Homo sapiens: one gene and its partner. The protein of the gene in region 1 interacts with the protein of each later gene in a biochemical or structural test. Each region holds a gene or a part of one and is shown on either strand. Other genes may lie near its edges.

Region 1 (3,334 bases):
GATGTGGGTATTGGACGTGGGACAGGACAGGAGACCCCTAGAAGGTGAACAGAGACCCAGCCCACCTGACTTCCACGAAGACCTCCCTGAGACCACGTCTGATGTACCCCAGGCTGTCCTTAGCTTTTCTCTTGGAATCCATCATAAATCAACTATTGACAGGTAGAGAACAATAAAACCTAGTTGAGCTATAGGTGCTGGGCAGGCAACTCGGCTTCACACGGACCTAAATAACCCGCTGAGTCTACACCACCTCCTCACTAGAGCCCTTGCTTCAAATGCGAGCCCCAGCAAAATGAAAACCGGTAACATGTTGTGGGTCCCCAGACCCCCTTTAAGTAGTTGAGACTATGAATATTTATTTTCTGAATTACATTTTACTATTGTAGTTTCGGGGATAATTGAAGGGGAATACTTCTTCATTCAGTGGGTAATTTAACAGATGTAACTGATTACTCTCAGAAGCTCTCCGAGTTGAAAATGTAAACAGGTTCAAAAAAGGCTTAGACATACTCATGTATGTTAAATCCATAATGCACTGTTAAAGGAAACTTCAGGAAAATATCGGTTAAGTTTCAAAGTTTTGAAGGTTCGAGATTCAGAAAGTGTCCTTTGCTCCCCAAGGCATCCAGTGCTGGTGCTGCAAAAAGCCCTCTGGATCACCCCAGGGTGACACTTCCTCCGACTTGGGTGCCCACAGACGACTTTGTATGGCCTGAGGGCTAAAGATGGTCTTTAACATTGGTAAGCGGTTGAAAAAAAAAATCAAAAGAAGAAGAATATCTTATAGGATTAAAATGAATAAAATTTATATACAATTATATAAAATTCCAATTTCAGGATCCATAAAATTTTACTAGAAGACAGACTAGAACACATCTATTTACATATTGTCTGTGGCTACTTTGAGGCTACAGTGGCGAAGTTGCAACAGAGACCACAGGGCCGGCAAAGCTGAAAATATTTACTCCCTGGCCCTTTACAGAAAGCAGTTGCCGACCCCTGTTCTGAAGCTATGAAAAGCTTTCTAAATTGGGAACTTGTGGGTCTCTCTGCCTCCACTGGGCTGGCACAGTGGGGCAGTTCTGCTCACACATCCAGAAGCCAACAACTATTCTATGACATGTGGTTTTGCTGAGAGGGGGCAAAAAGTGCAGACCACAGCACAAACAGCCTCAGTGTTATCAGAAAAGAGCCCATGGAATGTTGGCAACTAGACATTTTTAAAGACACACACACACACACACACACACACACACACAAAACCCTCTAATTCATCACCAGGGTTGGCAAGAGAAAGAGTCCCCATCCCAGCATCCCAGAAGGGGAATGTATCAGTTCCAACAACATCAGCATTAACCACACAACTGGAAACAAACACGCCCACCACATCAAAAGAGAACTTTTTGCTTACAATGATAAAAACGAAATTTTGTCCTAAATGGAACCGTTTTTCTTGAGCATATGGTAATGATTTTCAGAAGGAAAGAAACTTCGATTTTTATATCCACCAGACAATATGGCATTCTGCTTTTTTATTTTAGGGTACTAGATACAAATTTCAGTATCAACGGACCCACTCTACATGTAAATATATAAATAAATCACTTTGAGCATAGACATGAGATCATTAAAATAGAACTTTAGTGCTTTTCCCGGTTTCTTTCTTTTTTATTTTTATTTTTTTTTTTTTTGAGACGGAGTCTCGCTCTGTCGCCAAGGCTGGAATGCAATGGCATGATCTCGGCTCACTGCAACCTCCGCCTCCCCGGTTCAAGTGACTCTCCTGCCTCAGCCTCCCGGAGTAGCTGGGATTACAGGTGCACACCAACACGCCCGGCTAATTTTTTGTATCTTTAGTAGAGACAGGGTTTCACCATGTTGGCCAGGCTGGTCTGGAACTCCTGACCTCATGATCCGCCTGCCTCGGCCTCCCAAAGTGCTGGGATTACAGGCATGAGCCACTGCGCCTGACCAACTTTTCCCAGTTTCTCAATGAAGCCATAAACTTTCAGATCTGATAGGAAAAAAACAGGGATATCAGTAGATTCCAAGTCTACAGTTAAAGGAACTTATACTAGAAACAACAATTTTGGCAGAAGAAGAAAGTTGGTTTCTTCCCCCCCTTGAACCGTTCCTTTCCTTTCAACTTCTGAAGGTCAGCTGTATTCATTTAAGTGCAATCTCTTCCTTTATCCAGCACAGGCCACAGTCAGACGCATAAGATAAAGCTGCTGAGCTAAGACTTCATATCACTACATTTGATTATTACTTTTTAAAAAATCACTCTAAAACTATTTCCTAAATCAGAAATTAAGTGTATTATTTTCCTTCTAAAATACTTGGGGGACTTTAACTTTTTTCTTGTTGAGACAATTGCATGGTTTGGAGTTAGTTTCCTGTGTAAAAGAACACTATTGTGCATCCTCATTAAATATCTCAAAATACATTCATTAACAATTTCTCTATCTTAAGATTTGACTAGACTTGATGGGTTTATCATCTTTCCTGCTCAGAGCATATGCTTTCCATAATTATAAAAGGCACTCTATCTGCATATTGAAGGAGCCACTGACATGGCTAAATTTGCACAGTGAGTGACAGACGAGTGTTTATTTTGTTGGCAAGGATCATAAATTATTATTATTTTCTTTTTGAGATGAAGTCTTGCTCTGTCTCCCAGACTGGAGTGCAGTGGCGCAATCTCAGTCACTGCAAACTTCACCTCCTGGGTTCAAGCGATTCCCCTACCTCGCCTCCTAAGTAGCTGGGATTACAGGCACATACCACCACATCCAACTAATTTTTGTATTTTTAGTAGAGACAGGGTTTCGCCATGTTGGCCAGGCTGCTCTCGAACTCCTGGCCTCAGGTGATCTGCCCTCCTCGGCTTCCCAAAATGCTGGGATTACAGGCGAGAGCATAAATATTTTAGGGAAAATAAATATTTTAACAAAAGGTACATGTTTTTATGTAAAAATCATGTAAGTTGCTCATTGTAGAAAACAGTGTATGTTTATATACACCTAGAAAGAGGCTGCAAGGCATATAGCATTACCAACAGGATCACATAGGATAGTACTGTGGTAACAGAAGCTGGTGTTAGAAAACTTCATTGTATTCCATCAAGCAAATGATGACGAACATTATCAGTTTACCCACTAATGACCAAAGCACAGAATCAAACTTGCACAGGAATCCAAGCTTTTTCCCATGCACACCAAAATGCAAGTGAATACTGCTTCCCCTTTCCCACTCTCCCACATACCCCGGACTGCTCCACCAGCAGCTACACTGAAGGCAGCCTCGGGGATGTCCCTCTGTCTTTGGTTTC
Region 2 (3,663 bases), on another chromosome or scaffold:
AGGCCAGTGGGGAGGATGAGGAAGGAATCTGGTTGTCCTGGCTAATGGAGCATGTCCTTGGAGTTCTGGGGGAGATGACAGGCTCTGGTCTAAGAGGTAGGGACAGGGGTTCTGTCCCTAATGAGCTGTGTGCCCCGTGCACCTCCTTCATAGAATACGAGGACGGGATAGAACCCTGAGGGCTCCTTCCAGCTCCCAGAGTCCTGATTCCAGGGCTGTGCTCTGTCAATAAGTGTCCCCCAGCCTGGGCAGACCCCAGTCCCTTCTGTAAGGTAGACGCAAAGCAAAGAGGTTATGACCGGCTCACCCAGGGGCCTGGGAAGGCTATGGCCATATGCCCACTTCACTCTGCAGGACAAGTGGCCTGTCCCCACTATATTCACCTCCTCACCCCTCTCCCTTGGATGGACCAGTGGTGGTGTCACCCAAAGCAAATTGACACTATTTTTCCCTTGGTAACCGCAAAGGGGGAGAATCACCCGTCTCCTAATTTTAACCAGTACGTGAGGGACCAGGGCGCCATGACCGACCAGCTGAGCAGGCGGCAGATCCGCGAGTACCAACTCTACAGCAGGACCAGTGGCAAGCACGTGCAGGTCACCGGGCGTCGCATCTCCGCCACCGCCGAGGACGGCAACAAGTTTGGTGAGAGTTGGCCCTCCCCCCAGGGCACCCACACCTCCACTCTGCCTCACTTCCACCCTGCCTCACCTCCTGGTCCATCCCCAGATCCTGTGTCAGGGCTGAGGGCCCCAAGGGCCTGAGTGTCCCCAACCCCTTCGCCTGAGTCTGGAGGTCAGTGTGGCTGGGTGGTCCCCTGCTGTAGCCATAGGCCGGCAGCCCCGATGGACGGAGGTCTTTCTCCCCTCCCCCACCACAGCCAAGCTCATAGTGGAGACGGACACGTTTGGCAGCCGGGTTCGCATCAAAGGGGCTGAGAGTGAGAAGTACATCTGTATGAACAAGAGGGGCAAGCTCATCGGGAAGGTGAGGCTGGGAGACTGGGAAGTAACAGAGAATCAGCCCTACTGGGGTGGGGACATATAGGGCATCATGCTCCCCTCTCTCCTCTGAGCCACACACCCTCCTGTGTAAAGACTTCCCATCCTACTCTCAGCCCACCCACTGGGCCACTCTCTGGTTTTTATTTTAGAGTCCGGGTCTTGCTCTGCTACCTAGGCTGGAGTGCAGTGGCACAATCATAGCCCACTGCAGCTTTGTACTCCTGGGCTCAAGCAATCCTCTCGCCTCAGCCTCTGAAGTAGTAGCTGGCACTATAGGTGCATGCCACCATGCCCAGCTAATTTTTTTTTTTTTTTTTGTAGAGATAGGGCCTCACTATGTTGCCCTGGCTGGTCTCAAACTCACGGGCTAAAGCGATCCTCCCACCTCAGCCTCCCAAAGTGCTGGGATTACAGGCGTGAGCCACGGAGCCCGGCCTGGTTTCTCTATTTAAATGAGTCCCCGGGACTCTATTAGCCCTCTGAGGGGACTGGCAAGCCACTGGGATCTGTGGGGCTGATGTCAGGAGTATTTCTCCAGCAGGCATCAGTAAGAGCTTAGCATCTACCTGACACTGCAGCCTCTGGGTGGAGGACTAAGAGCTGTTGAGGGTGGAAAGTGGGGCACAGATGTAAGACAGGAACTCCCCCAAGTTCAGTGGGGCCAGTGGGCTCCAGCTAGCAAGATAGACACTAAGCAGCTGCCCCTGTGACCAAAGCACACGGTAGGCCGGGCCCTGCTGGGTGGGAGAATTCCACTTCGTTTGAAACCAGGCAATCCCAGCTTCCCATTCGGCTGTCGCTGACCAAATAACCTTTGGTTTGCTTATCTTTGTCAAGCCTCAGGCTTCTTGTCTGTAGAAATGGGCACAGACCCCTGATTGCAGACAGAGTGGGATGGGTGGCTGCACTGGCACCCTTCTTTCTTCTCATTGGAGGCTGCTGCCTCCTCTCCCATGCCCAGCAGCACCCCTCACCTAGGCTGCATGAGCATTTCAGTGCTAAGGGCCCGTGCATGCTGGGAAATGCCGCAGGTCCTTGATCTTCACCTACATCTCAGGAAGCTGAGGCCCAGCCTGGTTCAGGACCGCTAAACGACAAGCCTGCAACTCAGATCCACAAAGCGTGTTCTTGTTGGCCACTGTTGCCTCTCTAAATAGGATGCCATCTCACCAGGCAGAGTTCCCTGGGCTCACGGCCCCGTTGTTCCCGTTGTCCCTCCTCAGTCGTCCAAAATAGGCCGTAAGGGCGACACCCCAGACCAGGGTAGGTGGACAAATGCCCTTCCTGTCCTTGCTTCTCCCGCAGCCCAGCGGGAAGAGCAAAGACTGCGTGTTCACGGAGATCGTGCTGGAGAACAACTATACGGCCTTCCAGAACGCCCGGCACGAGGGCTGGTTCATGGCCTTCACGCGGCAGGGGCGGCCCCGCCAGGCTTCCCGCAGCCGCCAGAACCAGCGCGAGGCCCACTTCATCAAGCGCCTCTACCAAGGCCAGCTGCCCTTCCCCAACCACGCCGAGAAGCAGAAGCAGTTCGAGTTTGTGGGCTCCGCCCCCACCCGCCGGACCAAGCGCACACGGCGGCCCCAGCCCCTCACGTAGTCTGGGAGGCAGGGGGCAGCAGCCCCTGGGCCGCCTCCCCACCCCTTTCCCTTCTTAATCCAAGGACTGGGCTGGGGTGGCGGGAGGGGAGCCAGATCCCCGAGGGAGGACCCTGAGGGCCGCGAAGCATCCGAGCCCCCAGCTGGGAAGGGGCAGGCCGGTGCCCCAGGGGCGGCTGGCACAGTGCCCCCTTCCCGGACGGGTGGCAGGCCCTGGAGAGGAACTGAGTGTCACCCTGATCTCAGGCCACCAGCCTCTGCCGGCCTCCCAGCCGGGCTCCTGAAGCCCGCTGAAAGGTCAGCGACTGAAGGCCTTGCAGACAACCGTCTGGAGGTGGCTGTCCTCAAAATCTGCTTCTCGGATCTCCCTCAGTCTGCCCCCAGCCCCCAAACTCCTCCTGGCTAGACTGTAGGAAGGGACTTTTGTTTGTTTGTTTGTTTCAGGAAAAAAGAAAGGGAGAGAGAGGAAAATAGAGGGTTGTCCACTCCTCACATTCCACGACCCAGGCCTGCACCCCACCCCCAACTCCCAGCCCCGGAATAAAACCATTTTCCTGCAAATGGGTTATCTGAAGCGGGGCGGGGGATCCGACCACCGAACACCCCTGGAAACGAGCCTGCCCGTCCCCGGCCGGGCGTGGCCACGGCAGGTGCAGGCGCGGCCCGCAGCGCTGGGGCCCCCAGGAGGCCGCGGGCTCGGCCCCGCGGGAGGCGGGCGCGTCCAGGCCGGGCGGCCCCTCCCTGGCGCGGGCTCGGGTTTCCTGGGCTCGCGCGGCGCGGCCCGTGCTACCTGTTGGGGAAGAAAACCCGAGCCCCCGGAGGGGCCGGGGCCGGGGCCGGGACGTGCATCCAGCCGGGCCCCGGGCCCCAGGCCCCAGGCCCGAGGCGCAGGCGAGGGCCCTGCGGAGCCCGGCGGAGCCCGGGCGGCCCGCGGACGCCAGGAGCCTCCTCGGGCAGCGAGATTGCTTTTTTTCCGGTGAGGAGGGCGGGGGCGGGAAGCGGGGTTGGGCGGCCGGAAGGGGGGAGGGGGCGAGAAGGCGTCCCCTGTCCTCCCGGGTCCC

Evidence for each region. The genes of interacting proteins can lie anywhere in the genome.
Region 2: the proteins of FGFR2 (region 1) and FGF17 interact in a test that uses a peptide from one of them, tested with the Homo sapiens proteins (one study listed by BioGRID).

The regions. Positions count from the first base shown.
Region 1 is NC_000010.11:121,480,161-121,483,494, forward strand, and holds part of FGFR2 (fibroblast growth factor receptor 2 isoform 1 precursor), read right to left. Parts: intron 2,018-3,334; coding exon of another isoform or gene 2,012-2,017; exon of another isoform or gene 1,664-2,011; intron 1-1,663. UniProt on the Homo sapiens protein: Tyrosine-protein kinase that acts as a cell-surface receptor for fibroblast growth factors and plays an essential role in the regulation of cell proliferation, differentiation, migration and apoptosis, and in the regulation of embryonic development.
Region 2 is NC_000008.11:22,045,647-22,049,309, forward strand, and holds the end of FGF17 (fibroblast growth factor 17 isoform 1 precursor), read left to right. Parts: exon of another isoform or gene 1-326; coding exon of another isoform or gene 327-467; coding exon 468-645; intron 646-880; coding exon 881-987; intron 988-2,309; coding exon 2,310-2,603; 3' UTR 2,604-3,163; downstream 3,164-3,663. UniProt on the Homo sapiens protein: Plays an important role in the regulation of embryonic development and as signaling molecule in the induction and patterning of the embryonic brain. Required for normal brain development.